Linked DNA regions of Homo sapiens. The protein of the gene in region 1 purifies or fractionates together with the protein of each later gene. This does not show direct contact. Each region holds a gene or a part of one and is shown in the gene's direction. Other genes may lie near its edges. The genes, in order: METTL9, PITHD1, SLC30A1 and SLC30A5.

Evidence for each region.
Region 2: the proteins of METTL9 (region 1) and PITHD1 purify together in Homo sapiens (co-immunoprecipitation; 2 studies listed by BioGRID and IntAct, with this or other methods). This does not show direct contact.
Region 3: the proteins of METTL9 (region 1) and SLC30A1 purify together in Homo sapiens (co-immunoprecipitation; 3 studies listed by BioGRID and IntAct, with this or other methods). This does not show direct contact.
Region 4: the proteins of METTL9 (region 1) and SLC30A5 purify together in Homo sapiens (co-immunoprecipitation; 3 studies listed by BioGRID and IntAct, with this or other methods). This does not show direct contact.

The regions. Positions count from the first base shown.
Region 1 is NC_000016.10:21,594,618-21,602,838, forward strand, and holds the start of METTL9 (protein-L-histidine N-pros-methyltransferase isoform 1 precursor), read left to right. Parts: upstream 1-4,959; 5' UTR 4,960-5,116; coding exon 5,117-5,281; intron 5,282-8,221. UniProt on the Homo sapiens protein: Protein-histidine N-methyltransferase that specifically catalyzes 1-methylhistidine (pros-methylhistidine) methylation of target proteins.
Region 2 is NC_000001.11:23,773,801-23,781,822, forward strand, and holds the start of PITHD1 (PITH domain-containing protein 1), read left to right. Parts: upstream 1-4,617; 5' UTR 4,618-4,715; coding exon 4,716-4,913; intron 4,914-5,637; coding exon 5,638-5,681; intron 5,682-6,063; coding exon 6,064-6,141; intron 6,142-8,022. UniProt on the Homo sapiens protein: Promotes megakaryocyte differentiation by up-regulating RUNX1 expression.
Region 3 is NC_000001.11:211,570,692-211,576,324, reverse strand, and holds the end of SLC30A1 (proton-coupled zinc antiporter SLC30A1), read left to right. Parts: intron 1-35; coding exon 36-937; 3' UTR 938-4,757; downstream 4,758-5,633. UniProt on the Homo sapiens protein: Zinc ion:proton antiporter that could function at the plasma membrane mediating zinc efflux from cells against its electrochemical gradient protecting them from intracellular zinc accumulation and toxicity.
Region 4 is NC_000005.10:69,110,575-69,118,113, forward strand, and holds part of SLC30A5 (proton-coupled zinc antiporter SLC30A5), read left to right. Parts: intron 1-2,565; coding exon 2,566-2,653; intron 2,654-3,845; coding exon 3,846-3,922; intron 3,923-4,662; coding exon 4,663-4,833; intron 4,834-5,351; coding exon 5,352-5,640; intron 5,641-5,819; coding exon 5,820-6,028; intron 6,029-6,664; coding exon 6,665-6,822; intron 6,823-7,539. UniProt on the Homo sapiens protein: Together with SLC30A6 forms a functional proton-coupled zinc ion antiporter mediating zinc entry into the lumen of organelles along the secretory pathway.

The DNA.
Region 1 (8,221 bases):
GATAGACACATTATTAAGAGATGCTATCGTCATGGGTTCTAAGAGAATGTTTTACAGAGAGTAGCTTTGCAGAGACCAAAGTCTCTGACAGATCATCAGACATTAGATTCTTACAGGATGGCCACCTAGATCCCTCACGTGGGCATTTTACATTAGGACTGAGCATCTTTATTATGATAACTTTGGTTGATGTTTTGCAGTTTAAAAAACTCTCAGATCATCTAATTCTCACACACGTCTTGTGAAGCAGACAGCTCAGAACCATGGCTCTTAGTTTACAGATGAGGAAAGAGAGGCTCAGATGAGGTTGATTTACCCAAGTTAAAGTGAAAACAAATTAACATTTTTTGAGTGTTTACTAAATGTTGAGGCACTTATTAAGCCCTTTATATTTATAGTATATAACATGATATTCACTGCATCCTTATGAAATAGGTAACCATTATTATTATTTCCATTTTACAGATGAGGAAACAGACATGTAGAGGTCAAATAATTTGCCTCAAATTGCATAATCAAGAAGCATAGAGCCCAGCTTAAAACCCAGATAGTCTGGCTCAAAGTGCAGATGATAAACTACCATGCTAATGAGTAGCACTGGGAGTTCTCCAATGAAGCACACGATGTTACTTGTATTTGCTACTAACGTCTTCTTTTTTTTGAGATGGAGTCTCACTCTGTCACCCAGGCTGGAGTGCAGTGGTGTGATCTCAGCTCACTGCAACTTCCACCTCTCAGGTTCAAGCAATTCTCCTGCATCAGCCTCATGAGCAGCTGGGATTGCAGGTGCAGGCCATCACCCCTGGCTAATTTTTTTTGTATTTTTAGTAGAGACCGGGTTTCACCATGTTGGCCAGGCTGGTCTCAAACTCCTGACCTTGTGATCCACCCACCTCAATCTCCCAAAGTGCTGGGATTACAGGTGTGAGCCACCGCACCTGGCCAACTACTAACATCTTCTAACCCCTGGTTCAATTCTGCTACTTGAGGCTTTTTTTTTTTTTTTTTTTTTTGAGATGGAGTTTCACTGTGTTGCCCAGCCTGGAGTACAGTGGCATGATCTCAGCTCACTGCGGCCTCTGCCTCCTGGGTTCAAGCGATTCTCCTGTGTCAGCCTCCTGAGTAGCTGGGATTACAAGCATGAGCCATGGTGCCTGGCCTAGGCTACTAATTTTTTTTTTTTCAAAGCTGTCTGCAGTTTTGCCTTGACTTAGAATTCATCAACTGGAGCCCACAGTGATATCATTGCACAGGATTGAAGTTGTATCAACTAAATTCAGATAAAGATCTCCTACGTTAATTAATTAAACAAATTGTTGAGTACATTTGCTAATTTTGTTAGAGGTGCTCATTGCTTAATAACTACAGGACACATTCTATTGAATATACTGGGAAAAAGCTGTATCTTTCTCTGAAGGTATACAAAACAATATTAAGAAGCATAAAAAATATCTGTCCATAAAAACATGATTATGGCCAGGTGCAGTGGCTCACGCCTGTAATCCTAGCACTTTGGGAGGCTGCAGCAGGCGGATCACGAGGTCAGGAGTTTGAGACCAGCCTGGCCAACATGGTGAAACCCCATCTCTACTAAAAATACAAAAAATAGCCAGGCGTGGTGGCAGGTGCCTATAATCCCAGCTACTCAGGAGGCTGAGGCAGGAGAATTGCTTGAACCCGAGAGGCAGAGGTTGCAGCAAGCCGAGATCGTGCCACTGCACTCCAGCCTGGGCAACAGAGCAAGACTCCATCTCGGGAAAAAAAAAGTGATTATATGAGTTATTTTTATTTTTATTTTTTGATACAGGGTCACCCAAGCTGGAGTGCAGTGGCACAATCTCAGTTCACTGCAGCCTCAGCCTCCCAGGCTCAGGTGATCCTCCCACCTCAGCCTCCTGAGTAGATGGGTCTACAGGTGCATGTCACCACGCCTGTCTTATTTTTGTATTTTTTGTAGACACGGGGTTTCTCCATGTTGCCCAGGCTGGCCTTGAACTCCTGGGCTCAAGCCATCCACCTGCCTTGGCTTCCCAAAGTGCTGGGATTACAAGCATGAGCCACCCTGCCTGGTCTATATGAGTTCTTTTTAAATCATTATCTCTTCAAGGAGATAACAATCATCAATAGGTTTTGTACAGATCCAAACTCTCTGCTTGTGGATTCTCTTAACATGATACTTTGTAATTGAAAAGAGAATATGAAAATGCCAAGCTTTGTAACTTCAAAGAACAACAATAACAAAAAGCCTTTGCCTAGAGATCTAGATAGGAAAGTGATCCCGCCAAAATTTTGGGCCTGTGTACAGGGCTGTGACCCAAGTGGGACACCTGGGGTCAATGAGCAGAGTTCGGTGCAGAGGGTCATTTGTGTATCTTTTGAATATTACTAACTGCATCTCAAGATCATGTTAGAACGAGTATTGGCTATTTGGCTTTTTGTGTCATCTTGCCCCTTCCCGTCTCCATTATGGAGAATTGAGGTTTTAATATACGGTAGTGACATTCTAGTAGATGAAGGAAGGGGGCTGTCCCCAGTGGGCAATCTGAACTTCTGCTTCGTATATTTACTCTTGCTGTTTTCGTTTCTCCTCATTTGTAATTCAGGAGGCTCTCTGAGAAGAGACAGCAAAGCTTCTTAGATGGATCGAAAGACCACGAGCTGGGATACCAAGTTCTATGAAAAGGTCAGCTATTGAATTTACTCTGCTACCTTCAGGCAAATCATTTGATCATCGGATGCTCTGGTTTCTTCCTGTGCCTGCTAAATGTAAATAGCATGGGTTTGAGTGTTTGGTGGTTATTATAGAGTATTTTAAATGTATGAGTGATTTATTTTTCTAGGCCAGCTGCTCAGATATAAAACAAAATCTGCTCCTTTGAGCTGTTAGGCTTCGTGGCAGTCAACTGACCCCAAAATCCTTCTGACTACAGCAGCCATCTACTTGCTTGTTCATCTGATAACATTTTGCAGTCTCTCAGCTACAGCTATGTGGTCTCACTCTATAGCTGGGGCATACCTTTTTGTCTCCTTTGTCTTCAGAAAGGAAATATGCCATTTTATGCACTCCTGCTGCTTTCACCCCCACTTTAAAAAGATGAAGGCTTCCTTTTGTGACAGAGTTGCTTTGTCTGTTACACTGATCCTAAGAGACAGGAAGGAGAGGTGTCATAGTAAATAAACAGTTATTGGACTTGCTACCATAGTTCCTTTTTGATGACTTGGGCCAGGACCACTAGAGGTTTGAACTAGATTTAGTAAGGCTTGGGCTTTTCGGGGTTTTGGCAGGAAGCAGTCAGGGAGTATATTGGAAAGAGAGAACACAAAATACCGAACCCCACCCACCCTGTGCCTTTTTGTTTGTTGTTACAGCCTGTTACATTAGGCAACAAGATATCCTTGTTAGCCAAAGGTGCCAAGCTGAGATTCTTAAAAGCTAATGAAAGAGCTGTTGGGCCAGGTGCGGTGGCTCACGCCTGTAATCCCAGCACTTTGGGAGGCCGAGGCAGGCGGATCACGAGGTCAAGAGATGGAGACCATCCTGGCCAACATGGTGAAATCCCGTCTCTACGAAAAACACAAAAATTAGCTGGGCATGGTGGCGCGCACCCGTAGTCCCAGCTGCTCGGGAGGCTGAGGCAGAAGAATTGCTTGAACCCGGGAGGCGGAGTTTGAAGTGAGCCGAGATCGAGCCACTGCACTCCAGCCTGGAGACAGAGCGAGACTCCACTCCGTTTCAAAAAAAAAAAAAAAAAAAAGCTGTTGGGTAAGGAATGATTTTGTTCCCCATCTGTGGCTCACCACCCCACTGTTTCATAAATGAAAATCTCTGATGTGCAACGCTGAATTAACCAAAAGGCTTACTTCTTTTGTTTTGAACTTAGACACATTTACATTATTTCTGGTGCAGTTAAATTAAAAGCACTTTCCAAACAAACCTAGGAAAGTATTAAAGTTAGGGACTCCCACGAAATGTTACTCCTTAATTGTGGCTTGGATAATAGCAGGAAGAACTGCAGACAGGAACACAGTGTAACTAACCCTTCAGTTCTGAAATGTTGCTAGGTCTCCTCGTGTTATAAATGATCAAATAAATATCCGGGTTAAACACTGCTCCCAGAGCTGAGTTCACTCTTAAGAGTGTTGGGTCCAACTTCCCTGTGCTAATTCAAGGAAACAAGGCAGCCAAGGAGTCTAACTTGAGGTCTTCATTCTTGGGCAGGGCCATCAATACATCTAAAACATTACTTGTGGGTACCCCAGCTGCGGTAGCTTCCCCAAAAGGCAGAATTTTCACTCATTCTTTATAGAAACACGTAGCCAGCAACTTCTCAGGCTTGGGGAACGGGGCAGGCGGGTCGTGGTGGTGGGGAGAGTAGAGGAGGGAGTCTGGCAGGTCGGTTCTAAATGTAAACTGGAAACTACGCATCCGAGCGGGCAACCATCACTGGCACCATTCGTCTCCGGGAAGAACCTGTGTGTGTCAGGATGCACGAAAGGAATGACTCCCCTCTTTGCGCCCCCGGGGTTAACTGCACGACCCTGTCAAAGTCCCGCCGTGGAGTGGGATGAGGGTCGAGAGGTAACCCTGTCAAAGTCCCGCCGTGGAGTGGGATGAGGCGAGGAAAGACTGGAGGTCCTTCCAGCACCACCTTGGAGGGGCAGGGAGGCTGCAGTTACCGCCTTCGGAAGTGATCTCCTCAGCCCTCAAAAAAATTAAAACCACCTCCGCCATTTACTAGAGGCCAAGGCAGGGCCGGGACACGAGAACGCGCTCCGGGCGGATGCGCGCTCCCTTTGTCCCGCCTCCCAGCGGCCCGCTCATTGGACGGAGGGAGGGCGCCGGGGGAGAAAGCGACGCGGCCGCTCGTAAGTGCTCCGGATGGAAACTGGTGCAGGGGGCAGCGGCGTTCCGCGGCCGGAAGGGAAGGGGGAGGTGCCGAGGCTGCGCGCCGGCTGCTCCTCCCCACCCCCAGCCTTTGCCCTGAAGGGGGCTGGATGGGCAAGGCGGCCGCGATGGCTCGAGCTCGGGCGGTGGCGGCGGTGGCCGGAGGCGGCGGTGCCTCCTCCTCCTCGCCCCGGCGCCGGCGGTGATCCGAGCGAGCGGCCGCGGCCCCCGATGAGACTGCTGGCGGGCTGGCTGTGCCTGAGCCTGGCGTCCGTGTGGCTGGCGCGGAGGATGTGGACGCTGCGGAGCCCGCTCACCCGCTCCCTGTACGTGAACATGACTAGCGGCCCGGGTGGGCCGGCGGCGGCCGCGGGCGGCAGGAAGGAGAACCACCAGGTACGGGCTGGGGCCGGGGCCGGGGCGGGGGCGTGGCGGCCCGGCCTTCCCGCGCTGGGCCCGGCTATTGTGCGGGACGGCTCCGCGAGGGGGCGGCCCGGCCCTCGCCCCTCCGCCTCGGCCCCTTGGAAAGTTTTCCCCGCGCCTTCCCCGCCGGGCGTCGACTCCGCGAGCCCCGGGCACCCGGCCGCGGCCCCGCGAGCGCCTTTTGTTCCGCAGCGCAGGCGGGGCATGGCCTCCCGGGCCCGATCGTGAGCGGCCCGGAGCCCCGCATTGTTCCTGGGTCCCGGGCGGTGACTGCGGACGCCCGGCAGCGGGACTGGGGAACTTTGGGGCCAGAGCGTGGCTGGGGGCGCCCGCCTGGCACCGAGGCCTGAGACTGAAGAGACCCGGCCAGATCCATTACCCCGAGAAACAAAACGAAAAGCCAGCCCCTCTTGTTGTCTCGTTGAATCCCAGAACGTACAAAGGGTCGTGAAGAAATGTAACTGTACATCGCAAGCCATTGAACTCTCCAGGCTGATTGGGGTGACATTTCTCCCTAAGCACTTAAAAAATGGGTTTGACAGGTTGTCGCTCCCATCCTACGGAACCTTCCCCTCCTACCTAGCAGAGATCTCCTTTAAACTTGGATTTAGTCAGCCTGCTAGAAAGATTGTGTGTGATGAGGAGGAAGATTATGCAAGTTTTACAGGAAGGGTTTTTAAAACAGAACGGGACGGGAGGGAGTTTTAGTTATGCATCGTGAGCGTTACGCTGTGACCGGGTAGGTAGGCTTTTCATTAGCTCAGTCTTGCGCCACTTAAACGTGTACAGGTTAACTGTAGAATTAAGTGAGATATTTCGTATATGACCTTAACATAGTTTGCAGTTAATGTTAAATTCATTGAAAAGAGGCTTTTGAACTCTGCCAGAGTGTTGGCTTGTCATAGCTAGCATTTATAATACATTTTGCTTTTCCATAGAGTATTAATTATTCCCTATATCATCTTGTGTCTCATCATTTTCATATATTTCTCATTTTCCTACATTACTTTTTTATTATGCCAGGTGTTCAGAGAATTTACACCCAGGTTGATTTCATGTGTTTTAATGAGGGTAGAGAATTGTCTAAGAAGGAGATAGAGCAATTTAGAAAAGTAGCATTTAGTCTTTAGTAATATGTATATTGGGCTTTTTTCTATTGTTAAAGGAATCCTAAATTTCTGTAAATTTTTTTGAAAGCCTCCAGCCATTGCAGTTTGTTAGGTGCAATATCAGTATCATTGATCACTTGTATGATATGGTTAGGAATGTATGTAAACTTAAATTGCAAAACCACATTTATTCCTATGGATTATTTGCTTACACTAGTTCATTCTTATAGAGACAACTCAAAGGTACTGTACCGTTGACTGTACAGTTACCAGAATGTCACATATGGAACAATGGGGTAGACAATGAATTAGAAATGTCATTTTTAACATTTTTAAGCAGTTGATAGAAATAAGGTCCTGGATAGGAGAAAAAGCGATTTATCTCCATTGATGGGGGATTATGGTTGAGTCTCTTAGCTATTGGTATTTATAACACTTATCATGATTACCCCTACTGCAGCCACTTGGTAGGTTTTTAGTGCTCATAAAAGAATTGCACTTATTTTAAAATTGAAACACTATTTCAACACTGTGATGTGTATGGAGGCGGAATTGCAGCTGTAGACATAGCCTCAGAATATCTCCCAGCAGAGGATACTTTCTGACTGTACCTTTTAAAAGCTGAATCTGTTAAGTTCTAATGAAAACTAATACTGGTTTCAGATACGTTTATTTCAGATACCGTATTTATATTCTGTGTGTGTGTGTGTGTGTGTGTGTGTGTGTGTACCCCTTCACTAACAATTCAGCAGATAATTTCTTTAGGGTGAAGACTTAATATGGTGTTTTCTGAATATTTGGGGGATGGGTCAACTCTTTTCCTTAGAATAATGAATCCAGACATTATTTTGACATGAATACATTCATATTATGAAAATAATCGTGCATGAATAAAGATTAAAAGGAACAGAAGAAAGGTGTGTAGAAACCACCATGAGATAAAGTAGGAAACTGTCCTTTCTGCACTGTGGCTGGAGTTGATAATTTGTTTTCCACTTAATATTCCAGGATCCTGGGTTTGCCTTATAACTTCGTTGCTTGTGAAGTAACTGTAACTGTTTTTCCTCCTTCAGATTAATAGTTTTATACAAGGTCTTCTAAGTGTTCAGTTGGGTGTGTGAGTTCCATAGCCAGCCACATCTGGGCCTTTTGGAGTTGCATAAAAGTAGGGTTGTGGATTTGATTGAACCATACTTAGCAAAAGTGTTCCTTCTGGTTATTTTATTAAGGAATTATGATGGAGGATTCTGTGGTTAAAAGAGAGATCTTGGGCAATGTTTATTCGTTAAAAATGGCTATTTTGTTAGTATAGTTTGGAGAGGCAAGGCTCCTTTGGGCTAAAGCTGCTCTAAAACTGTAGTAGCAGTGCCATTTTAGTAACTTGGTTTGGTGTGCTAGCTTCAAAACTGGGATTATGTTTCACTTTGGGCAAGCAAGAAGCAGGGTTTCACTTAGAGCAGGGAAGTGGCTGGGAGGCCAGACTGGTCTCACAGACTTATTTTACAGCCTATGAAATAAGAATAGTTTTATATTTTTAAATGGTTACCAAGAAAATATCAAAATAACATTTTGTAATACATGAAGTTTCATTTATGGAATTCAAATTTATTTCAGTGTCTACAAATAAAGTGTTTTTTTTTTGAGATGGAGTCTCGCTTCGTCACCCAGGCTGGAGCGCAGTGGCCCAATTTTGGTTCACTGCAACCTCTGCCTCCCAGGTTCAAGCAATTCTGATGTCTCAGCCTCCCGAGTAGCTGGGATTACAGGTGAACACCACCACGCCCAGATAATTTTTGTAGTTTTC
Region 2 (8,022 bases), on another chromosome or scaffold:
AAAGGTCCCTCAGGTATCCAGCACAATGAATGACAAAAGAGACCAAAGCACAACAAAAATCATCACATTCTAGAATACCAAGAGAAGATCTTAAAAGCTTCCAGAAAACGGGGTGGGGTGGGGGGAAAACCCATAAAAAGAATCAGGATTCAGAACAGCATTGTATTTATCAAAGCCAGAAGAAAACCAGAGCAATTTCTTCACAATTATGAAAGAATTCTATCCACAGCCAAACTACTAATTAAGTACAGTAGAATAAAGCCATTTTCAGTGCCACTTAACATGTATGGCAGCATGGTAGCCAGCCACTAAGGTGGCCTCTAATGATTTCTACCTCCTGGTATCTGCACTCTTATGAAGTTCCCGCACACACTGAATATGGCTGACCTGTGAAACCATGGGATGTTGCAAAATTGACAATATGGGACTTCTGTGGCTAGGTCATAAAAGACATTGGTGGTTTCTACCTTGCCCTTAGATCACTTGTTCTGCTGAAAACCAGCTGCTGTATCATGAGGACACTCAAACAGTACTATTGAGAGGTCCATGTGTTAAGGAACTGGGGCCTCCTGCCAAGAGCCTGCACAAACTTGCCAGCCGGGGCTTCTCCAGCCCTGGCCAAGCCTTCATATGATTTCAGGCTCATGAGAGACCCCAAGCCAGAACCACCCAGCTAGGACGCTCTCAAATTCCTAACTCACAGAAACTGTGAGATGATAAATGTTAATTGTTGTTTTGAGGAGAGAGGCCATTTCTCTTACTGTCTCTGAAGAGAAGGAAGAAGTAAAAGCTGAAAAACAACAGGAATGAAGTCAGTGGCAAGACCAACTGATGCCACTTACCAGGCCTGAGGTTAAAGATTAACGCCCCCACCCTAACCACATGTGTTACCTATAGATCACTTGCTCAATCTATCACAACCCTTTCACGTGGACCCCCTTAGAGTTATAAGCCCTTAAAAGGGCCAGGAACTTTTTCTTTGGAGAGCTTGGTTCTTGAGACACAACTCTGCCAACGCTCCTGGCCGAATAAAGTCTCTTCCTTCTTTAACCTGGTGTCTGACAGGTTTTATCTGCAGCTTGTCCTGCTACAGTTTTAAGCCATTAAGTTTGGGAATAATTTGTTACACAACAAAAGACAACTAATACAGACCTACTGGGAGGGGAGGAGCCACAGTATTTTGCAGTTCTTCCAATCAGGAGGTGAAGTCTACAGTCTAGCTCTCCACTCTAGAATTTGGATTTGGCTGATGGGTCATTATAGAAAGATTATAGATGTAAGGCTTAAAAAGTGCTTGTGCTGGCAGGGCGCAGTGGCTCATGCCTGTAATCCTAGCACTTTGGGAGGCCGAGGTGGGCAGATCACCTGAGGTCAGAAGTTTGAGACCAGCCTGCCCAACATGGTGAAACCCCATCTCTACTAAAAATACAAAAATTAGCCAGGCGTGGTGGCAGGCGCCTGTAATCCCAGCTACTCGGAAGGCTGAGGCAGGAGAATCGCTTGAACCCGGGAGGGGGAGGTTGCAGTGAGCGGAGATTGTGCCACTGCACTCCAGCTTAGGTGACAGAGCAAGACTCCATCTCAAAAAAAAAAAAAAAAAAAAAAGTGCTTGTGCAATTGAGTCTTGCCCTCTCTTGCTCCTGGGAACTCTGCAATTATCACCATGTAATTTAGCTAGGCTTGTCTGCTGGAGACACGTGGTCCCATCATCCCAGCTAACAGCCAGCATCAAGCAGACGAGAGTGAGACCATCCCAAACTTTCCAGCCCAAGCTGAACTGGCCCAGAAAAGCTAATCCACAGGATCATGCGAATTAATCAATGTTTGTTGTTTAAAGCTATCAAAGTTTTAGGGTAATCTGTTACACAGCATAAGCTAATTGATACAGCATATTTACTTTGTGTGCACCTCCCGCCTCAACCTCCCCACCCTAACCAGGAAACTACTGATGTGTTACAAGAACACTACAGGATGTGTTCAAAGCCTGGTTACCTCCTAACTTTACCTAGTCTCAGACAAGTTAGTTTGCCTCTTTCAGCCTCAGTTTTCCTCATCTTCAAATTGGAGATAACAGTAGGTAATAGCACCTAGCTCTCTTTTTTTTTTTTTTGAGATGGAGTCTCGCTCTGTCGCTCAGGCTGGAGTGCAGTGGCACAATCTCGGCTCACTGCAACCTCTGCCTCCTGGGTTCAAGCGATTCTCCTGCCTCAGCCTCCCGAGTAGCTGGGATTACAGGCACACGCTACGATGCCTGGCTAATTTTTCTATTTTTAGTAGAGACGGGGTTTCACCATGCTGGCCAGGCTGGTCTCAAACTCCTGACCTCAAGTGATCTACCCGCCTCGGCCTCCCAAAGTGTTACAGGTGTGAGCCACCACACCTGGCTGTACCTAGCTCTTAAAGTTCATGTGACAATTAATTGAGATGAACTACATAATGTGCTTAGCACACAGTGCTCAAATAAATCATTAATGAAGGCAACAGGAAAAAGCCAAAATGAGTAGATCTCCGGGGTAAGGCCTGAGTTGGTTCTTCAAAAGGACACTCTTACCAAAGAAAGGCTACCAAGTATATCAGTCAAGTAAACATTTACTGTTTGCCACATTCCAGGTCCCTTACCTGAAACTGTGACCTAAAAGCAGGAATAATTCACGGCACTGAGCTATTTTGAAACAGAACCAAGCTTGCTTATTGCACAAGTAACTAAAATAGGACATCAAAATATTTTTCTTGTTTTTATTTTTTTGAGACAGTCTTGCTCTGACACCCAGGTTGGAGTGCAGTGGTATGATTACAGCTCACTACAGCCTCACCCTCCCAGGCTCAGGAGATCCTTCCACTTCAGCCTCCCAAATAGCTGGGACCACAGGCATGAGCCACCATGCTGGGCTAATATTTTTAATTATTTTTGTAAAGATGGGGTCTCCCTATGTTGCCCAGGCTAGTCTCAAACTCCTGGGCTCAAGTGATCCTCCCACCTTGGCCTCCCAAAAGTGCTGAGATTACAGGCATGAGGCACTGCATGTGGCCCAGAAAATATTTCTGAATGGAACTTGAAAAAATGGATATTTTGGTCTATACTTCACCAGCCCCACTGAGCACTCCAGAGCCAGATGTGAAGGGAAGAGGGTAGCCAGGGTATCCCATAACTCTCTTTCTGTATCCTGTCTTTTCCCCACCAGGGAGTAGGAAAACATTCTATCCTGAAAACAAGATTATTTCACCTCTAAACAGTGACTTTTAATTATTTTGATCTCAACCCACAATATGAAAAACACATCATATTGTGTCTGAATACAAACTCAAAACTGAAACAAAAGTTTCATCAATTGAGACTTGAAATGTGTGATACATTCTGGGTTTTTTTTTTTTTGTATTCTATTTTTTTTTTAAATGTTGATCACAATTCTCTATAAACGGATTTTAAAACCTATTGACAGGCCACAACCAGCTGTTCGAAAAAAAGTACTTTGAAATATCACATGGGGGAGGAAACGCAGAGATCATCTAGTCCAATCCCTTCACTTCACAGGGGGTAAACTGAGTCTCAGAAGATCAAGTCACTTGCCCAAGGCCACGCAGCTAGTAAGTTGCTGTGGTTGGATTTGACCGTAATAACCATCGGCTACTGAATGCCCATCATGTGTCAGCCATTTGCTGAGTTTTTTCTTTTTTTTTCTTTTTGAGACAGAGTCTTGCTCTGTCGCCAGGCTGGAGTGCAGTGGCGCGATGTCGGCTCACTGCAACCTCTGCCTCCCGGGTTCAAGCGATTCTCCTGCTTCAGCCTCCCGAGTAGCTGGGACTACAGGCTCGCGCCACCACGCCTAGCTAATTTTTGTATTTTTAGTAGAGACGGGGTTTCATCATGTTGGCTAGGATGGTCTCGATCTTTTGACCTCGTGATCCGCCCGCCTCGGCCTCCCAAAGTGCTGGGATTACAGGCGTGAGCCACCGCGCCCGGCCTGCTGAGTTCTTTAATTGCATTATTTCATTTAATACTCACTGTGATCCTATGAAACAGATACTATTCTTTCCACCTTACAGACGGGGAAACGGAGTCTCAGAATAGGGGAAATGACTTAAGGTGTCACAATGGCCAGTAGCAGACCCAGGAGTAGTCTTTAGGTCTGGCCGTGCACAAAGCCCCATGCTCTCAAGCTGTAACCCCGCTATCAAGAAAGTGGTTATGCAAGTGGGCCTGTGAGCTCTCAACGTCTAAGCCGTGCGCATGTGAGACAGCGATAAGCTCGCGTTCTCCAGTCTCCAGGGCCTTATCATTCCTCACGCTTTCCTTCATCGGCTCGCAAAGAAACGTGGCGATCAAGGAAGACAGCGAAGGCTCCATCCTCGTCGGGGGAGGATAATTCGAATCTCAGCCTGTGAGTTTACTCAGCACACCTGTTTAATCTCTTGGTCCTTCAGTTTCCACACCTAGGAAGCTGGAACAGCAGCAGCATCCAGCGCCAGGACTGGAGTCATATACGAACTCTGGCACCTGGGAGGCGCGCGTCCTACGTCAGTTCCGCTCGACCCCACCCCCCCCGCCCCCCCGCCTTCTCCCCACGCGCATGCGCCGCGCAGCGGCGCTTTTTACGACGCGGCAGGCGCGGCGCGCTTAGTTGCCGGAGCTGAACGGCGCGGAGCTGGTCTGAGGCGAGCCGAGCCGAGCGAGCGCGGCGGTGGGGCCGAGAGGACGCGCAGGTGGCGGCGTTGCCATGTCGCACGGTCACAGCCACGGCGGGGGTGGCTGCCGCTGCGCCGCCGAACGGGAGGAGCCGCCCGAGCAGCGCGGCCTGGCCTACGGCCTGTACCTGCGCATCGACCTGGAGCGGCTGCAATGCCTTAACGAGAGCCGCGAGGGCAGCGGCCGCGGCGTCTTCAAGCCGTGGGAGGAGCGGACCGACCGCTCCAAGGTGGGCCGCCTGGGGCTTGGGGCGGGCGGGGCAGGGTGCGTGTGGGGCCTCGGGCCGTCGGTCTACTCATTTCTGATGTTAAGAATAACGACAGCCTGGTTGCCAAGCGCTTTTCCGTGCCTGTCTCCTGCCAGCTCTTTGGGAGGCGAGCAGCGTTGTCTCCCCATTTTGCATATAGGGAAACTGAGGCCTAGAGGGAACGGGGACAGTTTTGTCAAGCTACACAGCCTAACGCTCTATTCCAGGGCTGTGTGGGCTAGAGAGGATGGTCGTGAGGGCCGTTGGACCATTGGTGCTAATGGCTGCCTCATCATATTACCTGGTGAAGATGAGCCTAGGGAGATGAAAGGTGGTTCCCATATAGAGCAAATGTTCTTTACATTGTGGGGTCGCAGGCCCCTTTGCTATCTGTTTGAAAGCAGTGGACCTTCTTCTCAGAAAAATGCACATAAACACCTGCCTTTCAGTTCACACTTCAGAAGGCTCTTCGACCCTGGAAATTCATTCATGGGCTTTTTGTTAAGAACCTTCCAGTTGGGTGGCCTGTGGCTGTTATGACACTGGATAAGACTGGTTAGCTTCAAGTTAATAAGTCTTGGAAAACCAAGGGAGAGTGACTCTTCCCATTGCACCCCAGTTGTAGAGCAGGGTGGGAGATGCCTGAAATTGTAGGCTCTCAGCAAATATTTGTTGCTTTCTCCTCCCCCCTCCCCATCCCCTCCAGTTTGTTGAAAGTGATGCAGATGAAGAGCTTCTGTTTAATATTCCGTAAGTATCTCCTTGGTGCCTACCTCAGGCTAAATAGGCTGTACCCAGTTGCCTCAGATGGATTCATTCACTGGTGTCAAGAGCACACATTTGCTTCTAGAAATGGGATAAATTACTTTGGTGGGTTTGAGGAGGAAAGCATCATAGCTTTCTTGGTGCAGACTGGAAACAGATGTATTTGTAGAACAATAACTGAGAAATTGAGGTAGATTTCTTAGAATTGTAGAATGCTAGAGGTAGACAGGATCTTAGAAATTATCTAGTACAAGTTGACAGATGAGTAAACTGAAGCCCATACAGGGGAAGGGTCTTGCCCAGGGTCACACAACTAAACAGGTATTCAAACTCAGGTTTGACAACCTTCTCTTTTGCATTCTGGCAGATTTACGGGCAATGTCAAGCTCAAAGGCATCATTATAATGGGAGAGGATGATGACTCACACCCCTCTGAGATGAGACTGTAAGTGGCAAAGGCTTAGGCCCTCAAAGGAGCTCCTAATTCTCTTTTTCTGGTAACATTTTATTCCAGAATAGTATCATTTTCTTCTTACCGGGTTTAATATTTCCCCTTTTAAAATATCTTGGTCCTGTTCTCATTCTGCATTGGAATACATATATTTCTTCCTGAATTAATGACTTTTTTAGATTAAGCATCTTTAGGCCCAACAGCGTGTCTCATATTTCAAAGTGCTTACTATGACATGATTCATTCAGAGAGCATTGTGTAAATGTCACTTGTTGATGACTCTGCAGTTTTCTTAATAACTAGCTGCAGATCTCATATGATCTTTATGGATTCTAGGGGTTAGCTTCAACATTTTTCCTTGCTATTTCATACAGTAATGATCTTATGTGTTTTGTTGACATGGAATTGCTCCACCTGACTTTGCGTGGCATTTAGTTAGCAAAGTTGTGTATACCTCTTGCAACACTGAATCTTTTGCCACCAGAGCTAGTACCCTTTTTGACAACTTACCTTATTCCAGAACAGCCTTCCTAAAAGAAGGGGAAAACTGCTTTCTGAGTGCTGGAGAAACATATAAGAAGAACTTTACATTTAAAAAATTCAGTCCGGGTGCAGTAGCTTATCTCACAAAACCAATAAAAGATGATATATAGGCTGGGCACAGTGGCTTACACTTGTAATCCCAGCACTTTGGGAGGCTGAGGCGGGCGGATCACCTGAGGTTCGAGACCAGCCTGGCCAACCTGGTAAAACCCCGTCTCTACTAAAAAAACAAAAATTAGCTGGGCCTGGTGGTGCGTGCCTGTAATCCCAGCTACTAGGGAGGGTGAGGCAGGAGAATTGCTTGAACCTGGGAGGCGGAGGTTGCAGCGAGCCGAGATCTCGCCACTGCACTCCAGCCTGGATGACAGAATGAGACCCCATCTCAAAAGTAATAATAAAAACAAATAAATAAAAAATTCAAATCCTAAAGGCCGAGCATGGTGGTTCACACCTGTAATCCCAGCACTTTGGGATGCCGAGACTGGTTAGGAGTTCAAGACCAGCCTGACCAAGATGCTGAAACCCCGTCTCTACTAAAAATACAAAAATTAGCCGGGCATGGTGGCACACGCCTGTAATCCCAGCTACTTGGGAGGCTGAGGCAGGAGAATCGCTTGAACCCAGGTGGCAGAGGTTGCAGTGAGCCAGGATCGTGCCACTGCACTCCAGTCTGGGTGACAGAGCAAGACTCCATCTCAAAAGAAAAAAATAATTCAAATCCCAGCACTTTGGGAGGCCGAGGCGGGCGGATCACTTGAGGCCAGGAGTTCAAGATCATCCTGGTCAACATGGCGAAACCCTGTCTCTACTAAAAATACAAAAATTAGCTGGGTGCGGTGGCACAGGCCTGTAATCCTAGCTACTGGAGAAGCTGAAGCATGAGAATCACTTGAACCGCGGAGGTGCAGGTTGCAGTGAGCCAAGATTGCACCACTGCATTCCAGCCTGGGCAACAGAGTGAGACTCTGTCTCAAAAAAAAAAAAAAAAATTCATCTGAAAAATTGATTAAAGGACTTCCAGAGATTTAAGATATATTATAGTTGAGTATTAGAAACATGAATTTGAAAGCAAATCCATGTATTTAATCATTTTAAGGAAATAATACCTTTGATGCTTTTGGAGACTCATTTACTTGGAAGTTGATGGACTGACCTGAGAATATTAGGCATCCATGCTGCATTGTGATTTAGAGTGTGGGATCTGGAGTAAACTGGGTTCAAATAATGGCTGTACCACTTGTTAGCTTCATGACTTTGAGACCTTATCTTCTCTATGCCTGGATTTTCTATATCTAACATGGGAATGGTAACAGTGCATACATACCTCATAAG
Region 3 (5,633 bases), on another chromosome or scaffold:
AATGTATTTGATATAAAATTTTTATTTCTTTGTAGACCCAGAAAACCCCAGAAGTGGTGATACAGTGGAAGTACAAGTGAATGGAAATCTTGTCAGAGAACCTGACCATATGGAACTGGAAGAAGATAGGGCTGGACAACTTAACATGCGTGGAGTTTTTCTGCATGTCCTTGGAGATGCCTTGGGTTCAGTGATTGTAGTAGTAAATGCCTTAGTCTTTTACTTTTCTTGGAAAGGTTGTTCTGAAGGGGATTTTTGTGTGAATCCATGTTTCCCTGACCCCTGCAAAGCATTTGTAGAAATAATTAATAGTACTCATGCATCAGTTTATGAGGCTGGTCCTTGCTGGGTGCTATATTTAGATCCAACTCTTTGTGTTGTAATGGTTTGTATACTTCTTTACACAACCTATCCATTACTTAAGGAATCTGCTCTTATTCTTCTACAAACTGTTCCTAAACAAATTGATATCAGAAATTTGATAAAAGAACTTCGAAATGTTGAAGGAGTTGAGGAAGTTCATGAATTACATGTTTGGCAACTTGCTGGAAGCAGAATCATTGCCACTGCTCACATAAAATGTGAAGATCCAACATCATACATGGAGGTGGCTAAAACCATTAAAGACGTTTTTCATAATCACGGAATTCACGCTACTACCATTCAGCCTGAATTTGCTAGTGTAGGCTCTAAATCAAGTGTAGTTCCGTGTGAACTTGCCTGCAGAACCCAGTGTGCTTTGAAGCAATGTTGTGGGACACTACCACAAGCCCCTTCTGGAAAGGATGCAGAAAAGACCCCAGCAGTTAGCATTTCTTGTTTAGAACTTAGTAACAATCTAGAGAAGAAGCCCAGGAGGACTAAAGCTGAAAACATCCCTGCTGTTGTGATAGAGATTAAAAACATGCCAAACAAACAACCTGAATCATCTTTGTGAGTCTTGAAAAAGATGTGATATTTGACTTTTGCTTTAAACTGCAAGAGGAAAAAGACTCCACTGAAATTCTAAGTTTGCCAAGTAGTGTAATTGAAGTCCTTGTCTGGTCACACAGTTTAATTCTATTTTTGTAAGAACATAATGGGACTGCATAACAGAGTTCTATATTACAATTTTGTGATTATTAGTACAGAGTACAGCTATGCTGTGACTGTTTTGGAAAGCCAGTTTTAACACTATGTTACATTTTTGTTTAAAGTAAGTTAAACCTTATATAACATAATGACATTTGATTTCTGGATTTTTCCCATGATAAAAATTAGGGGGATAAATAAAATTGTTACTGGAATTTCTCTGCTTTTCTTTTCCCCCAGTGTTATACTTTATTAGAATTATAATTGATAGAACTTTAAAATCATCAACAGTTTGTTTCCTTTGACATTTTAGGTGATATTGCCCTTTGAGATCATTACATAGCATAATGGCAGCATATTTTAAGAGTGACTCATGGCTATTAGTAGGAAATAAGATCAGTTACTATCCTGTATTCTGTATTGCTGGCTATTAAACAGTAAGATAATTAACAAATTGAACTACAGTTTACACACAATGGGGCAAATGGGGTAGTAAGAGCAAGGAAGAAAGTTTACCAAACTAAATATTTAGGTTATTGTATGATAATATTGAGACTACATTTCTAAATTATTTTGAGAATTTCAACTTTTTATTCTACCAAAGTTAATCTGAAACTTGGACATGTTCACCAGCATTACTTTCTTTGAAAGATTGGTATAAAAACATTGAGCTGCAAGTTTATTTACAAAATATATAAGTATTTTTAAGGATGTTGACACCTAATAATTACATGCTAAACGCAAACGATTAATGTAATCTTTTAAACCGGGCGTTTGAAAAAAAATTTTCAAGGTCATTTCATGATAACCAATCATGAATGGATTTAAATGGAGCTTTTTGAGCACAACCAGCAATGTTTGTGCTTTCTAAGAGTCACTGACTTGAGAGGAAAGAAAACCAGAAGGTTAATGCAGTTTGGATATTAAATTCTTAGCAAAATTAATAATTAAAGCAAAATTAATTAAGATTTTGTAAGTCATCCTGTCTTCACATACTCAGATCTTCCAATAGTGGCTTATTTTGCAAGATGCCACAATATCTACACAGAAAATTGTGGCTATTTCATTATTGCTATAGATTTCAAATCCAACACAAATATTTAAGGGTGTTTAAGTTATATTTTTCTTGATAGAGGGTATGCTTTGTGACAAAATTAGATTTTTGTCCTTGAAAGGATTAATATTAGCATCAGTTATGTATAGCTCTATTTTTCTAGAAACAAGGTATTCTGACTACTTTTATAGCTGACTACTTTTGGGATGGCTACGTTTTGGGATTTAAAATAGTTCATTGTTTAATGGGTTGTAAGAGGAAAAAGTGTTAGGATTTGACAGTTACTTTTTAAAGGGATGATCTTTTGTGGTGTGTGTTTTTCCTAGTATAAGCCTATTGCTGGCGATGGGCCTATTTAAGAACAGCTGATTTTTTCCAGTGAAAATATGGTAATTTTAGGAACACAGTTTGTAAGTTCACATTTACTATAATGGGCCAAAACCATAACCTGCCAGTTTGCAATACATCTTGATCTTTTAATATTCTTATCTGATATTGTGTAATTCAATTCCTAAACTGATAGTTACCTTGAATTTTGCGAAAAGGTTTGGGTGGTTTTTTTTAAACATGAAATTGAGGGATCTCATCTGGGCGAACAAGAAGAGAAAGCTGTGAATTGTACTGTATCATGTACATTCCTGATTTAATACTTTACAGAACATTTTATTCAGATATCAATTTGTTACATAAACATTTCAGCAATGATACAAAGATAACTGATAAAATATATTACATTCAATGAGGTTTTCTTTACAAATGCTCTACTTGAGGTCTGTGTCTTAAAGATGGCATGACACCTAAGTACAAGACATCAACTGAATGAGGATTTTAAAAAATGGTATATAAGCATAGGACAAGGGCTATGTTTGTTTGTTTTTCAAAAGTGCTTTGAAGATAACAGCCTTTAGGTTTGAGTTATTTCACTTTTCATAATTTTTAAGTAGCTTATATATAATGGTGGTACCATAGGATTTTCTTTTTTCAAATGACTGTCGGCAGAAACAGTGGGCACTGACTCACCTTTTGAGTTTTAGCAGAGAATTATTTATTTCTTTACAATGCACTTTCTAACCCATTGTAGCTATATTAGCATTATCTTTTAAAAAAGACATGCTTTTGTATTTAAATATTGTAGGATTTAAGTGTCTTTCTCAAAATAGCTTATTCCTTTCTGAAAGAAAATGAGGGAAATACTCTGAATTATTAGGAGACTTAAACCCAATATTTAAATATGCTATTTTATAACACTGCATCAGTTTTAGGAGTTGCATCTCTCCTGCTGGCTCTTTTATATTTGAGCAAGATCAGTGTAGAATATGTGTTTAGAAACTTGTCTGTTGTCTCAGTTTAGTGAAAAGGAGGTGCTGCATGTGCCTGAATTAAAACCAAGAAATTTTTCCAAGCCAAATGCAGCCTTAGTGATGAGAGATTTAATTCTCCATTGTCACCTTTTAGCTTTTATGATTGCTTAGTTTTTTCTGAAGGATGTCTGCATTGTAAAACTATGGACTAAAACCTAAAAAACAGAATCCTCAAAAACTTTGCTGTATGTGTTTTAACATTTTAGAGAACAGTATGTTGAATAACTAAGGTATGTAACTTGAATAGGAAAAATGTCCATCAAATGCACCTTGGAAAATCACAGTAGGTAGAAGGCTGTGTTAACCGTTTGTGTCTTATTAACATCCTTAAGTTAATTTTGAATTTTTGACAGTTTTGAGGGAAAAGACCTATGGAACCTAATGTGAAGTATTTCGTATGTTAACTGGTGTTGAGTTGAAGATTTTTACTGTGTATAAGCAGATATCATTTGAATGATAAAAATGTCATTAACCTGCTGTCTTAAGATGTTCACACAAATATGGAGAGTAATTCTACAATATAAAAATATTTATTTTAATACTGAGTTTCAGTTAAGTCATAAACAGTGTTAAAACTCTTGGGAAGGTGTAGGGGTTTTTTGTTTGTCATTTTTAAAATTGAAACTGTGTCATACAGTGTTTCACGTCTCTGAAATTGGGATTATAATAGCACTATTTTGATGTAGCTCTACCGATACTATGTGGTAATGCTATTTTGTTTTACTAACAAGCTCTGGAATATTTAGCAGTCATTTTCACTGGCACAAGAGCCTTTTGTATGTTATTCAATTTAAACTTTTAAACCAAAAATTTTATGGTCCAGTGTCTTTGGCAAAAAGATGCTGGAGGGAATGTAACATACAATTAATATGTGGTTATATATATATATAAAAAGACACAAATTGCCATGTTATGGTTCTGCCTTGAAACAGCACAATGAAGTGTATCAGTATATTCTGTGATTATGAAACTTATATGTTGTGTTGTTTTGTGTCTTCTGTTGCCTGTCCTTTGGGCCAGATGTGGGCCAGTTAAATGCAGTTATCATCTCATTAAATACAGATGCAGATAAAATATCTTTAGTGCTGCAACATTTTACCTAACTTTTTGTATGTTTTCATGACTGTGTGTTATTTTCCAAAGCTGTTCCTACCTCACCATGAGGCTTTATGGATTGTTATGTATTATAAATGTTCTATATGAGACAGACTACTGTGTTTCTTCTCATTTATTAAAAGTTAAGTAGAAAAATAAACTAATTTTAATATCTACTTCATTTGTGCATATGGCCTCCCCTCCGATACTAGGCTTAGTTACACAGAGAGTTGGATTTCAGATAATTGAAAGAGAAATTTCAGTTTAACACAAATGTTGCAAGTGTACAGAGTGACTAGGTTACAAGATGGGTGTGGAAGAAAATGTAAGCAAAAATTGCAATTAAAAATTGAAAGGGTAACACTGCAAAGGCTCACTAATATGAAATACTCAGTGGCTTTGAATTTTATTATAAGCATTAAGCTTATAGATTATATAGTTGTGGTTAACCTGCTGCTTTTGGCACTTGCTATTTTTTTATTTATAAGCATAGTTACTAATAAGGTTTATTAAATATTTTACACCTGTAAATCATCTAAAATTCTTAACGCAATAGTATATTATTGTGGTTCTATGAGCCTCAGGACTATCACAAATGTAGTTTCATAAAAAAATTCATTAAAGAACTTGTATTTTGGGCTGTGAGACAACAGTTGAAAAAATCAACTGACAATAAATGGCAGTAGATAAAGGAATTGATCTATATACAGTAGATATTCCAAAGAAGAGGTAAAAAAAAATTTGGAAAGGATATGTAGGTTAAAGTGGAAAGGAGTAGGGTTTGAGAGGCAAGGGAGCAGGAATAGTGGTATAAAGAATTGGGGGTCTGGGCAGGGTGGCTCATGCCTGTAATCCCAACACTTTGGAAGGCTGAGGTGGGTCAGATCCACTTGAGCTTAGGAGCTCGAGACCAGCCTGGGCAACATGGCAAAACCAGGTCTCTACCAAAAAAATAATAATACAAAAATTAGCCAGGGCTGGGCATGGTGGTTTACTCCTGTAATCCCAGCACTTTGGGAGACTGAGGTAGGTGGATCACTTGAGGCCAGGAG
Region 4 (7,539 bases), on another chromosome or scaffold:
GTTTACAAAATAGACATTTGTAAAAACATAGAATAAAATACGTAGATGGAGAAAATTCTGAGCATAAAAGCAGTGGAAAAAATCACAAAGGGAAAACTCACTATATTTGGCTTCATAATGATTATAAACTTAACGTATAACAGAAATCAGTGTGTATACAAAAAACTAACAACAAAAATTGCCAGAAATAAGTTTTACATTCCTTTCAAAGTATAAATCACCCATTTCAGTTTAAAAAATGCTTAAGATCCTTGGCAGGAAATCAGCAAAAAACTGGGAATGACAACTCACAAAAGAAATAAAAATGACTTGAAAACATTTAAAAAAAAAGTTTTCCTCCTTAAGTAACTAGAAGTGAGAGTGTTCTCATTAGTGTGAGAAATGGATCAGGGCATCAGTCCAGGACTTGATGATTGTTTTTTCTTTTTTTTTTTTTTGAGATGGAGTCTCACTGGGTTGCCCAGGCTGGAGTGCAGTGGCACCATCTTGGCTCACTGCAACCTCCACCTCCCAGGTTCAAGCAATTCTCCTGCTTCAGCCTCCCGAGTAGCTGAGATTACAGGCACATGCCACTACACTTGGCTAATTTTTGTATTTTTAGTAGAGACAAGGTTTCACTATGTTGGCCAGGCTGGTGTTGAACTCCTGACCTTGTGATCTGTCCGCCTTGGCCTCCCAAAGTGCTGAGATTACAGGTGTGAACCACCACGCCCGGACTTTTTTTTTCTTTTTCTTTTTTTTTTTTTTTGAGACAGAGTTTCACTCTGTCACCCAGGCTGGTGTGCAGTGGCACAATCTCAGCTCACTGCAACCTCTGCTGCCCAGGTTCAAGCAATTCTCCTGCCTCAGCCTCCTGAGTAGCTGGAATTACAGGCACCTGCCACTGCGCCTGGCCTAATTTTTGTACTTTTAGTAGAGACAGGGTTTCACCATATTGGTCAGGCTGGTCTTGAACTCCTGACCTCATGATCCACCCGCCTCGGCCTCCCAAAGTGCTGGGATTACAGGCGTGAGCCACCACGCCTGGCCTTTTTTTCTTAATTATGAGACTGAAGCATTACAAAATTCTCAGTTGCCTTCTTTGTTAACAAAAAGATTAAGTTATGTTCTCTGTATTTGATTGTTGTTGATGTTGCCATATCCTAACTCAGTGAAAACTTAAGAAATTTAAAAGTACATGGTTTTTCTCATGTGTAGTGTACTGAATTTTGTTGTAATACCACACTAACAGAATTTATCCATTATAGTGGTAATCATAGAATGAAGAGTATCCTCACTTTGCATTGTAAACTTTAATAGAAGTATTGTATTATACTTCCATTATAGGTATATATAATACACTTAATGTATCTATATATAATAGGTATTCTACAAGTATATGTATCATACAAGACATGTTATACCTGTAAATTTGTAAATATAGAATGTATAGTAATGCTGTTTAGCCAGGCACAGTGGCTCATGCCTGTAATCCTAGGACTTTGGGAGACCGAGGCGGGTGGATCACGAGGTCAAGAGATCAAGACCACCCTGACCAACATGGTGAAACCCGTCTGTACTAAAAATGCAAAAATTAGCCAAGCATGGTGATGTGCACCTGTAATCCCAGCTACTCAGGAGGCTGAGGCAGGAGAATCACTTGAACCCGGGAGATGGAGGTTGCAGTGAGCCGAGATCGTGCCATTGCACTCCAGCCTGGGCAACAGAGACTCTCCTCAAAAAAAAAAAAGGAATGTATAGTAATGCTATTTAGATTGCTCTTGAAGCTACCATTCTGAAATATTTACATAAACCGAGCTAATATGTCCTTTCTATAATTTTCTTTTATGAAAACCTTTTTCCTCAGCCTGAACAACATGGCTAGACCTGGTCTCTACAAATAAAAAATTAACCAGGCATGGTGGCACATGCCTGTGGTCCCAGCTATTTGGTAGGCTGAGGCAAGAGGATCACTTGAGCCCAGGAATTGGAGGCTGCAGTGAGCTGTGTTCACGCCACTGTACTCCAGCCTGGGCGACAGCGAGATCTGTCTGAAAAAAAAAAAAAAATTTTCCCTGGAATGAGAACATAAATTTTATCAGCTTTTTAAGTACTTTGTACTTTACTAGATCTTAGAAATGACTTTGCTGGTTTTACCGTGCCCTCTGGATTATTTTTCTCTAGAGGAGTAGTATCTAGAATATTCTCTATTCCTTGCATATTGTAGAGTAAAATAAGTTCCTACTAGTTATTCTTTAGCTACGTGGGCTTTTCAACCAGAAGTAAAGTAGCATTTAGGAAGGCTGATTCTGTAAACAGTACCAATTTGTACATAGTAATATGCCCAGCCATGTTAGCAAAGAGATAATCAATGTTATCATTAGTTTATATCTCTTTGATATCTTACTGCCAATACTGTAAGCTTATAATATGTAAGAGCTTTAATGTCAGATTTTTTTCTGTTTTTTAATGCATTTTTGTAAATGCTTACTTGAGAAAATGTTTTTCTTTAGTATTTATGTAGTTACGGTCTTAAAAATCAACCCTTGAAAAAGTCATCCTTGATGTTGTTTTCTTTATTTTCAGACAAGGGGAGCTGCTTTTTTCATTATTGCTGTGATCTGTTTATTGCTTTTTGACAATGATGATCTCATGGCTAAAATGGCTGAACACCGTATCCTTTTGGAATAGATCAGAGTTGTTTCAAGTCTTGAGGAAAACTAGAAGCCTGGAACAATGGAAAAAGAAAGGATAAGTGAATTAAACTGATCAATGATGAATGAAACTTTCATAGATTAATGTAGATATTCTAAATCAGTATTCAAATAATGAACAAACTCATTATAAGTTAAATATTTTATAGCATCTCTGTATCACCTACAGTACCCTAAATTTTCAGAAATGTAGGGACATTGAAAGAATATTTTGGAATGTCCTGGTGCTGGAAAAAAAAAAGGTGATTTGCCACTCAACATGTTTGCTCCCTTATAATTTAACAATTAAAAGGCTGATAAATGAAAAACCTTTAGTATCTTCTTGCCTGAAAGAAAAAGTTCAAATTCCCTTACCTAGTATTCATTGTCTTGCTCTAAATTATTATCTCTAGCTCAGCCCCAACTCTTCTCTTACAGAAACCCAACTTTCTAGTCAAATATATCTACTCATTTTACTCTACAAACATGCCTTTTTTTCTATTTTCTATTCATACATCCTTACCCACTCCATCCAGCAGAACTCCAAGCACCAGTTTTTATTCTTCTATTACTGATACTCACTGCCCTAAAACTTATTAGTAAACTAATAATAATTTTCTTTGTTACAGTGAGGGAGAAGAGTGTGACTTTGGAAAAGCTCCAGGTTGCTTGTGATACAACCTCTATTCCCCACCCTCTTTTGCTTGCCACTTAATTTGCTAAGACTTATGTGGTCAGTGACTTAGAAGACAGATTTAGGACTCATTTTACATGTCAGTCTTAAAGGGCAACCTTAATTCCACTGGACAGGAGTGGTCCAGGGAGATTCCTTGCTCTTGTACCTTTGTCGTTCTTAAAGTATGTATGCAATGTGTCTTTTAGAGGTTAACTACTAAAATCTGGCAAGTTTATCTTAAGCACTATTATAATTGTTTTGGAGACAACAAAAGAAATACAGGCATTCCAGTTTATAAATGAGGTCCTGGAATTAAATGTTAGATTGTTTTATTTTGTTTTGTTTTTAAGTGAAACATGTTATTGAAAGTAATTAAGTTTGAGGCCTCCAGATCAGTCTATATGCAATCCAAAATAATGTAACTAAAATTTCAGGAGAACTTCAGGTGTCAAAGAGTGACTTTTTGGAATTTTTTTCCTTTACTTCAACTCACTTAGCTGAAGGACATCATGACAGTGCTCTAACTCATATGCTTTACACAGCCATTGCCTTCTTAGGTGTGGCAGATCACAAGGTATGATTTCTTTGTTCCTAACAGGATCAAAAGATTCTGAAAAGTTGTAGCAACTATAACTATAAAGGTACATTTAAAATAAATTATCAGCTGGGCCCAGTGGCTCACGCCTGAAATCCCAGCACTTTGGGGGCCAAGGCAGGTGGATCACCTGAGGTCGGGAGTTCAAGACCAGCCTGACTGACATAGAAAAACCCCATCTCTACTAAAAATACAAAATTAGCCAGGCATGGTGGCACATGCCTGTAATCCCAGCTCCTCTGGAGGCTGAGGCAGGAGAATCACTTGAACCCGGGAGGCCGAGGTTGCAGTGAGCCAAGGTCGCGCTATTGCACTCCAGCCTGGGCAACAAAAGCGAAACTCTGTCTCAAAAAAAATAAAATAAAATAATTATCAGTAAGTTATAACATTGCCGGCCATTTAAGTAGTTACGTAATTGAGTATATGGGAAAAATATACTAGTTCCATTTCCTTAAATATTATGTTAGCATGGTGTGGTGGTGTGTGCCAGTAGTCCCGGCTACTTGGGAGGCTGAGACAGGAGGATCTCTTTGATCACAGGAGTTTGAGGCTGCAGTGAGCTGTGATCATGCCACTATACTTCAGCCTGGGTGGCAGAGCAAGACCCTGTCTCTGGGGAAAAAAAAAAAAAAAAAAAAAAAAAAAAAAGATCATGTATTTAACGACTGACTGTTGAACTGTGTGTGTTTCTAATGAGACTTATCTAATTTTACTCACAGGGTGGAGTATTATTGCTAGTACTGGCTTTGTGTTGTAAAGTTGGTTTTCATACAGCTTCCAGAAAGCTCTCTGTCGACGTTGGTGGAGCTAAACGTCTTCAAGCTTTATCTCATCTTGTTTCTGTGCTTCTCTTGTGCCCATGGGTCATTGTTCTTTCTGTGACAACTGAGGTAAGATAAGAGCAAGAATTTATTGGTATTAAATTGCTAGTAAAATGAATTGCTATTAAATTTTTAGTTCACTGTATTCAATAAATTATATTTTAATTTGAGGTTGAAAGTGGCTTAAATTGTCTTTGCTTTTTCTTTGTAGTTTTTTAAAAAAAATTTGGAGTTAATTTTATTGTTTATAGAAAATACAAATCAAATGCTATTACATTTACATATCCCTCACATTGCTATGGCCCAAAGGAATCATTTGAAGAAGGAGCAATTAACCATGTGTTAGGCTTAAAGATTGTGTGTCGCCTAGTGTTCATCGAATGATTACACAATAGTGCTTTTGTTTTTTAAAACTTTGGAGAATACTGAGAAAATGTACCAATATCTTATAGCTTTTATATGTTGGCATATTATGAATCATATTGAATCATGCGATTTTTATTTTTTTAAAAGATTAACAGAAACATCTTGTAAGATGTGAACTTTATACATGTATAGTCTTGACAATTCTTTTTTTTAATTTCTAGAGTAAAGTGGAGTCTTGGTTTTCTCTCATTATGCCTTTTGCAACGGTTATCTTTTTTGTCATGATCCTGGATTTCTACGTGGATTCCATTTGTTCAGTCAAAATGGAAGTTTCCAAATGTGCTCGTTATGGATCCTTTCCCATTTTTATTAGTGCTCTCCTTTTTGGAAATTTTTGGACACATCCAATAACAGACCAGCTTCGGGCTATGAACAAAGCAGCACACCAGGAGAGCACTGAACACGTCCTGTCTGGAGGAGTGGTAGTGAGTGCTATATTCTTCATTTTGTGTAAGCATTCCCCCCTTTTTTTTATTTTAACAAATTTCTATTTATGGATTTTGATGGTCACATCATTTACTTATTTTGGGAAATTCTTCAGTGCTTGCATTTAGTGCCGACAGTTACTGTGTTGGTTTTGGTAGCTTAAACTTCGAAAATTTAAACAATATTGTTTTTTCTCTTTGTAGCTGCCAATATCTTATCATCTCCCTCTAAGAGAGGACAAAAAGGTACCCTTATTGGATATTCTCCTGAAGGAACACCTCTTTATAACTTCATGGGTGATGCTTTTCAGCATAGCTCTCAATCGATCCCTAGGTTTATTAAGGAATCACTAAAACAAATTCTTGAGGAGAGTGACTCTAGGCAGATCTTTTACTTCTTGTGCTTGAATCTGGTAAGATTTTTAAATGTTAATTGACATATCCTAAAAGCATAATATTTTAATTTTGACAGTTCTGGTATAAGTTTAGTACTTCCCAAATTTCTGATAATAAGATGAGCTAAAATTTAAATTTTTTCTAAGTATAATAGCAAGATTACGAGATCATATTCAGATTCCTTAGGCAATCCTTAAGGCATGTGCCACCGTGCCCAGCCACTTAAGCAAACAATTTGTGAGGCATTTTAGAAGCATTGATTTAGTATGTTCCTTCAAATCAGTAAATATAGTAGCATTTAAAGAGTTCTAATAACTTACAGGATCTCACTATTAGCAATCAGTGTTATAAATCACCTATTGCTAACATTTTATAACCTAGTTTATTATTTTTATAGACATATAAACAAAACCATTTTTAAATAGTTTCTAAAATGGATTTATCTTAGTTTTTTACAATTTAATAGTTTGTAAAATGGGTTTATCTTAGTTTTTACAATTTGTGTGAAATAGGGTTTCTAATGTAAGTGGCAGTTAAATAACTAAACAATTATAGCAGATCTTCAAGTAAATTTGGATAATTAAGGGTTAAAATCCTCCTAATTGAAACAGTGCCCAACATACTCCTCCCTTTTTTTTTGGTGACATTTTTAGCTTTTTACCTTTGTGGAATTATTCTATGGCGTGCTGACCAATAGTCTGGGCCTGATCTCGGATGGATTCCACATGCTTTTTGACTGCTCTGCTTTAGTCATGGGACTTTTTGCTGCCCTGATGAGTAGGTGGAAAGCCACTCGGATTTTCTCCTATGGGTAGGTACATTGACTGTCGAGGTGGTATATCTTAAGTGCAAATTCCATCTTAAGGAACAGAATTATATTACTTATATTACTTTTAATACAAATAATTTCCAAATCTTCATTTTTAAAAAATGTGAAGTAAATAAGGGGATGTGAATCGGGCATTTGATAAATACTGAATGGAATTAAGCTCAAAGATTATGCTCCCTTGGCCGAGCACAGTGGCTCACGCCTGTAATCCTAGCACTTTGGGAGGCCAAGGCAGGCGGATCACCTGAGGTCAGGAGTTCGAGACCAGCCTGGCCAACATGGTGAAACCTCGTCTCTACTAAAAATACAAAAATTAGCCGGGTATGGTGGCACGCACCTGTAGCCCCAGCTACTCGGGAGGTTGAGGCAGGAGAATCGCTTGAACCCAGAAGGCAGAGGTTGCAGTGAGCCAAGATCGTGCCACTGCACTCCAGCCTGGGCAACAGAGTGAGACTATGTCTCAAAAAAAAAAAAGACAGGGCCAGGTGCGGTGGCTCACGCCTGTAATCCCAGCACTTTGGGAGGCCGAGGCGGGCGGATCACAGGGTCAGGAGATCGAGACCATCCTGGCTAACACGGTGAAACCCCGTCTCTACTAAAAATACAAAAAAAATTAGCCGGGCGTAGTGGCAGGCACCTGTAGTCCCAGCTACTCGGGAGGCTGAAGCAGGAGAATGGTGTGAACCCAGGAGGCGGAGC